Linked DNA regions of Homo sapiens. The protein of the gene in region 1 purifies or fractionates together with the protein of each later gene. This does not show direct contact. Each region holds a gene or a part of one and is shown in the gene's direction. Other genes may lie near its edges. The genes, in order: YTHDF2 and EIF4E.

Region 1 (3,821 bases):
GGTTCAAACGATTCTCCTCCCTCAGCCTCCCAAGTAGCTGGGACTACAGCCGCGTGCCACTACACCCAGCTGATTTTGTATTTATGGTAGAGACAGGGTTTCACCATGTTGGCCATGCTGGTCTCAAACTCCTGATCTCAGGTGATCCGCCTGCCTCTGCCTCCCAAAGTGCTGGAATTACAGGTGTGAACCACTGCGCCTGGCCGAATTTGTTATTAAGTATTATTTATTATACATAATTTTACGTGCTATAGTTTTATACGACTTGCAGTGCGGTAGGTTTGTTTACACCGCATTACCACAAACAAGTGAGTAATGTTTTGTGCTACATCCTTACAGTGGCTTCGACATCGCTAGGTGATAGGAATTTGTCAGCTCCATTATAATCTTACTGATCTGTCATTGACTGAAATGTCATTATATCGTGCATGAGTGTGTGTGTGTGTGTGTGTGTGTATTTTTTTTTTTTTTTTTTTTTGAGAGAAGGCCTCACTTTGTCACCCAGGCTGGAGTGTAGTGGCCTGATCACAACTCATTGCAGCTTTGACCTCCTGGGCTTAAGCATACTTTTTCTTGCAGCCTTCTAAGTAGCTGGGACCACACAGGTGTTCGCCACTATGCCTGGCTAATTAAAAAAACTTTTTGGAGAGATAAGGTTTCACTGTGTTGCCCAGGCTGTTCTTGAATTCCTGGGCTTAAGTGATCCTCCTCCTTTGGCCTCTCAAATTGTTAGGATTCCAGGTGTGAGCCACCATGCCTGGCCTAATGTTTAAAAATTTCTGGCTGGTGCGGTGGCCCATGCCTGTAATCCCAGCACATAACGGAGGCCAAGGCAGGTGGATCACCTGAGGTTGGGAGTTCGAGACCATCCTGACCAACATGGAGAAACCCCGTCTCTACTAAAAATACAAAATTAGCTGGGCATGGTGGCGCACGCATGTAATCCCAGCTACTCAGGAGGCTGAGGCAGAAGAATCGCTTGAACCCGGGAAGTGGAGGTTGCGGTGAGCCGAGATTGCGCCATTGCATTCCAGGCAACAAGAGCGAAACTCTGTCTCAAATTCTAGTAGAGTCAGGTTCTCAGTATGTTGCCCAGGCTGGTCTCAAACTGCTGGTCCCAGCCTCCCAAAGTGCTGGGCTTGTAGGCAGGAGGTACCATGGCCAAAATAGATATTTTTAATAAAATATTATAGCCTTGCTTTAAATTGGAGAACTGATGAAAAATACTTTGTCTCTTTATCTGGGGGAAGTTAGCATCTTAATTATATATGACTTGATGTTTCATATATATATGACTTGAAGTCTAAAGTCAAGTCATTAGACTTATTTAACTTATTCACGGCATTGGAGACTATAAAGGTTGATTCTATTAAACCATATCAAGCAATGGAAGTAATTTTTGTGTCATCACATCACTTTTAAAAACACATTTTCCTAGCCGGGCGTGGTGGCTCACGCTTGTAATCCCAGCACTTTGGGAGGCTGAGGCGGGCGGATCACGAGGTCAGGAGATCGAGACCATCCTGGCTAACACGGTGAAACCCCGTCTCTACTAAAAATACAAAAAATTAGCCGGGCATGGTGGCGGGCACCTGTAGTCCCAGCTACTCGGGAGGCTGAGGCAGGAGAATGGCATGAACCCGGGAGGTGGAGCTTGCAGTGAGTGGAGATTGTGCCACGGCACTCCAGTCTGGGCAACAGAGCGAGACTCTGTCTCAAAGAATTTTAGAATGAGACTCCGTCTCAAAGAATGACTCCCGTCTAAGCATTTTATATTGTCAGCTGGGGTGCTGAACTTTGGGTTTCTTTCAAGGTTCATGGGGGCATAGGAAAAACTAGTTGAGAGCTATATAGATTTAATTTTGTGGGAGAGATAAACATTTACCAGATTTTAATGTTAATAAAATTATATCCAGGTGAATATGAATATGCCTCAGTTGTGTTTTATGGCCCACTTGAAAGTGAAGGGAGAGGGAGGGATAGAACAGTGCAGTAGTAAGTAGAAAGGTTATTAAGCTTAAATAGAGGGAAGCTAAATAGGCAGATTTACTGTTTTTGAATATTATATGAAGAGATTGCATATGTGCAGACTTTAACATTGCCACCTTATGGCTTTTTGTATATTTCCTCCAGAGACTGAATTTTCTATTTTATTTTATTTTATTTTTAATTTTTATTTTTGAGACAGAATCTAGCTCTGTTGGCTAGGCTGGAGTGCAGTGGCGCGATCTTGGCTCACCCGGGTTCAAGTGATTGATTCTCCTGCCTCAGCCTCCTGAATAGCTGGGACTACAGGCATGTGCCACCACGCTTGGCTAATTTTTGTATTTTTAGTAGAGATGGGGTTTCACAATGTTGGCCAGCCCTGTCTTGAGCTACTGACCTCAAGTGATCCACCTGCCTCGGCCTCCCAAAGTGCTGGCATTACAGGCATGAGCCACTGCACCCAGCCGAGTTTTCTATTTTGTAATCATAGATTTAAAGTGAGGAGGGCCTAAGGTGGATGGGTGGATAGAGATGTCGACATTATTTCTAGTTATTTAAGCCACAGACCAGATCTGTCTGGACTTGTAGTTTCCTAATTTATTCATAGTTAATATCTTTAATGTTTTTATTTGAGACAGAGTTTTGCTCTTTTGCCCAGGCTGGAGTGAAGTGGCGTGACCTTGGCTCGCTGCAACCTCTGCCCCCTGGGTTCAAACAATTCTCCTGCCTCAGCCTCCTGAGTAGCTGGGATTATAGGTGCCTGACACCAGGGCTGGCTAGTTTTTTATTTATTTTTAATTTTTATTTTTTATTGAGATGGAATCTCCCTCTGTTGCTCAGGCTGGAGTGCAGTGGTGCGATCTCAGCTCAGTGCAACCTCCACCACCCAGGTTCAAGCGATTCTCCTGCCTTAGCCTCCTGAATAGCTGGGACTACAGGTGTGTGCCACCATGCCCAACTAATTTTTTGTATTTTTAGCAGAGATGGGGTTTCACCATGTTAGCCAGGATGGTCTCGATCTCCTGACCTGGTGATCCGCCCACCTCAGCCTCCCAAAGTGCTGGGATCACAGGCGTAAGCCACTGTGCCCAGCCAATTTTTTTTTTTTTTGGGATTATGGGCGTGAGCCACTGAGCCTGGCCGACAATTTATAATTGTATATATTTATGGGGTACAAAGTAATCTTAATTTTTTCAAAGAACCAACTTTTGTTTTTTTTTTTCCTATTATATATACTTTAACTCATGCCAGCTCATATCTTTATTATTATTATTATTTTTTAAATTTATTTATTTTATTTTTTTTTGAGACGGGGTTTCTCTCTTGTTGCCAAGGCTGGAGTGCAGTGGTGTGATCTCGGCTCACTGCAACCTCCATCTCCCAGGTTCAAGCGATTTTCCTGCCTCAGCCTTCCTAGTAGCTGGGATTACAGGCATGTGCCACCACGCCCAGCTAATTTTGTATTTTTAGTAAGAGACGGGGGTTTCTCCATGTTGGTCAGGCTGGTCTCGAACTCCCGACCTCAGGTGATCCGCCCACCTCGGCCTCCCAAAGTGCTGGGATTACAGGCATGAGCCACTGTGCCCGGCCCAATTTTTTATTTTTATTTATTTTTATTTTTATTTTTTTGAGACGGAGTTTTGCTCTGTCACCCAGGCTGGAGTACAGTGGCGCGATCTCAGCTCACTGCATCCCCTGCCTCCTGGATTTAAGCAGTTCTCTGCCTCAGCCTCCCAAATGGCTGGGATTACAGGCGCCCACCACCACGCCCGGCTAATTTTTTTTTTGTTTTTTTTAGTAGTGGGGGTTTCACCATCTTGCCCAGGCTGATCTTG
Region 2 (3,821 bases), on another chromosome or scaffold:
TGGAATTATTTTTGACAGTTTTAAATAGTTGGATTTTGTGTGTAGGGGTGCAGGATCTTGCTCTGTTGCTGGGGCTGGAGTGCAGTGGCGCGATCATAGCTCACTGCAGCCTCAAACTCCTGGGCTCAAGAGATGCTTCCATCTCAGCCTCTGGTGTAGCAAGCACTACAGGAGCAGGCCACCACGCCCGGATAATTTTTAAACTTTTTGTAGAGATGGAATCTCGCGATGGTTACCCAGGCTGGTCTCAAACTCCTGGACTCAAGTGGTCCTCCCACCTTGGCCTCTCAATATGTTGGGTTACAGGCGTGAGCCACCGAGCCTCGCCTGGATTTTTTTTTGAAGCAACTGATTAGAATTGGATTGTACTTGAGATACCCCTGCTGAAGGCTGCAAAAATCATGTTTTTTCTTACTTCAGCTAGTTTGTGAGCTTCCATAATGGTTTTCTGCTGTGCATAATCATAAACACTTAAAAAGAGCCATGGGCTTTTCCTGCTTATCCCATCATGCATAGGTATCTGGATGATTTTTGTCTATGGACATTACATAAAATATCATTTTCAGTTTGATATTATTGTGTGGTTTTCTCTTTGTATGAGTTGAGTTACATGAAGATGTGGCCCACAAATATTAAATTTGTTGAGAAGCTTGAAAGGGAAAATTAAGGGAAACATTTTACCTCTTAACGGATAATTTGGCAAAAATTTGAACGTTAGGGCAAACGGTACTCTGATGTTATTCTATCGGCATTTGAATTGTGGCTGGGTCAAAATTAGGTTTAATATTAGTCTGTGAAAATGGCAAGGCCATCTTACCTCCAGTAGGTCGTGTTTCTTTGTAGCTTTATCTTCATTCTACATCGTTCATTATTAGAATTAAAAAAATTTTTTTTTGACTTGTAGTTCCTTTTGAGGTAAGAGATTAATTTTGATTTCTTTAGCTTAACTGAAAGTGTATAATTTTACTTGTTTTTACATTGTAGCTCTTGAATTTTTTGAAACCACGCTAATTTCATAAGTGAATCAACTTGGACAATCAGCTAATTTAATGCTTCCTTTTTTATACTTTGGAAACATGCTCTGTACTACACAGCTTATTAATAAGAGTAAATAAGGTTTATATACATATTGACAAATATTTGTTGTACTATATAATTCATATTAATGAACAATTGAATGCCAACCAGACTATGCAAATTAGTGGACTTTTTGCTTAATGAAAGAACCCACTATATCAGAGTTCCTCGATAATCCACGTAAATTTGGCTCTGGGGTTCATATTCCAGATTTCTTCAATTAAAAGAAAAAAATATACTTGCTGAGTGCGGTGGCTCACGCCTGTAATCTCAGCACTTTGGGAGGCCGAGGCGGGTGGGGATCACTTGAGGTCAGGTGTTCGAGACCAGCCTGGCCAAAATGGTGAAACCCTGTCTCTACTAAAAATACAAAAATTAGCCAGGCCTGGTGGCAGGCGCCTGTAATCCCAGCTACTGGGGAGGCCAAGGCAGGAGAATCGCTTGAACCTGGAGGTGGAGGTTGCAGTGAACCGAGATGGTACCACTGTACTTCAGCCTGGGCGACAGAGCAAGACTCCATCAAAAAGAATAAAAAAAAAAACAGAAACAAATTTCACACTTCATTTTATAATCTGAGTTAATGAGCATGATTATTAGACTTAGAGAAATTCAATGTAGACACACAGTTTATACACAGAAGTTGCAGAGGGATAATATGCAAAATGAATTATGTAAGCTTACTCTAGTTTGGACAGAAAACTGTAGGCAAAAAACATTTAAGTAAAATATTGTTTAATTTACATAAAGTTAAGAATATGGGCCGGGTGCGGTGGCTCATGCCTGTAATCCCAGCACTTTGGGAGGCCGAGGTGGGTAGATCACCAGGTCAGTAGTTTGAGACCAGCCTGATCAACATGGTGAAACCCCACCTCTACTAAAAATACAAAACTTAGCTGGGCGTGGTGATGCGTGCTTGTAATCCCAAGGTACTCAGGAGGCTGAGGCAGGAGAAGCTCTTGAACCTGGGAGGCGGAGGTTGTAGTGAGCTGAGATTGTGCCACTGCACTCCAACCTGGGTGACAGAGCGAGACTCCGTCTCAAAAAAAAAAAAAATAAACAAAAGAAGTTTCCTTAATCTATTAGTACCGGTGAGTTGCACCATCTTAGTCATAGAGACTTTTTTGAGAAGTGGAAATGAGCATGGGTTATAGTCTCATCTTAATATCTGAGTGATCTTGAAGACTGAAATTTCTAAGTCAGCTGAAAGTCGGAATAAGATATATTACGGTGATTTCAATTTTTAAATGCAGTATTCAAAGGTGACAGTTTGTCAACTGTAAGGGACTAAAGTTGACATTCCATGAATGTTTTATACTCATGTATATCCATGCATTTACATACTATTTTCCCTCTTTTCTTGGAAATTCACATTGCTGCTTTTTAATTATCAATCCTTAGCCATTAGCAAGAAATGCAAAGCCTGTGATTCACAATCCTAAGATGTTCTTCCCACTCCTATCCCTACCATAAAAATCACTAGTGTTCCTTCAAAAGTCCCTAATCATGTCTCCAGAAAAAGAAAGGGGCTGGGCTTGGTGGCCCACACATGTAATCCGAGGCTTTGGGAGACAAAGGCAGGAGGATCACTTGAGCCCGGAGTTTGAGACCAGCCTGGCCAACATGGCGAGACCCTGTCTCTCCAAAAAATTAAAAAATTAGCTGAATATGGTGGTGCACACCTGTGTCCTAGCCTCAGGAGGCTGAAATGGGAGGATCCCCTGAGCCTGGGAGGTCAGAGCTGCAGTGAGCTGTGATCACACCACTGCATTCCAGCCTGGGTGACAGAAAGAGACCCTATCTCACCAAAAAAAAAAAGAAAAAGAAAATGATTTTGCGTGTGTGTGTGTGTGTCTAAAATACTAATAGTCATTTCTGGGCACTTCTGGAACCTGAGAATGTGGTCAGAAATATAAGGGGTTTTTTTTTTTTTGTTTCCCCAGTTGGAACTTTTGATACATTATTCCATAGAAACAGTAGGAAAATGGGCCGGGCGTGGTGGCTCACGCCTGTAATCCCGACACTTTGGGAGGCTGAGGTGGGCGGATCACCTGAGGTCGGGAGTTCGAGACCAGCCTGACCAGCATGGAGAAACCCTGTCTCTACTTAACAAAATTACAAAATTAGCTGGGTATGGTGGCACATGCCTGTAACCCCAGCTTCTTGGGAGGCTGAGGCAGAAGAATCGTTTGAACCTGGGAGGTGGAGGTTGCGGTGAGCCTATGTCTGCCATCGCACTCCAGCCTGGGCAACAAGACTGAAACTCCTTCTCAAAAAAAAAAAAAAAGAAAAAAGAAAAAACAGGAAAATGAAGTTTAGTCACACTATATTCAGTAAATTTTTGTGGAATCATTACAAATCTAACCAGCATTGGATTTATAGGGATATGGAATTAAGGATATGGATTTATAGTTGTAAGCAACTAACTAAAAAAACCTTATAAACATACCTTGTTTGTAACAGCTATTTTTAATGTAGAAAGATCGTTATTTGTAATTGCTACACATAGCACTTATTCTATGTTAAGTACCACACTGAATGCTTTACATATATTAACTCATTTATTTCTTTTTTTTTTTTTTTTGAGACAGCGTCTCACTGTTGTCCCAGCTAGAGTACAGTGGCGCGATCTCGGCTCACTGCAACCTCCGCCTCCTGGGTTCAAGTGATTCTCCTGCTTCAGCCTCCTGAGTAGCTGGGACTACAGGCACGTGCCACCACGCCCGGCTAATTTTTGTATTTATAGT

Evidence for each region.
Region 2: the proteins of YTHDF2 (region 1) and EIF4E purify together in Homo sapiens (affinity purification with western blotting, with the first as the bait; one study listed by BioGRID). This does not show direct contact.

What each region holds. Positions count from the first base shown.
Region 1 is NC_000001.11:28,760,675-28,764,495, forward strand, and holds part of YTHDF2 (YTH domain-containing family protein 2), read left to right. Parts: intron 1-3,821. UniProt on the Homo sapiens protein: Specifically recognizes and binds N6-methyladenosine (m6A)-containing RNAs, and regulates their stability. M6A is a modification present at internal sites of mRNAs and some non-coding RNAs and plays a role in mRNA stability and processing.
Region 2 is NC_000004.12:98,922,391-98,926,211, reverse strand, and holds part of EIF4E (eukaryotic translation initiation factor 4E), read left to right. Parts: intron 1-3,821. UniProt on the Homo sapiens protein: Acts in the cytoplasm to initiate and regulate protein synthesis and is required in the nucleus for export of a subset of mRNAs from the nucleus to the cytoplasm which promotes processes such as RNA capping, processing and splicing.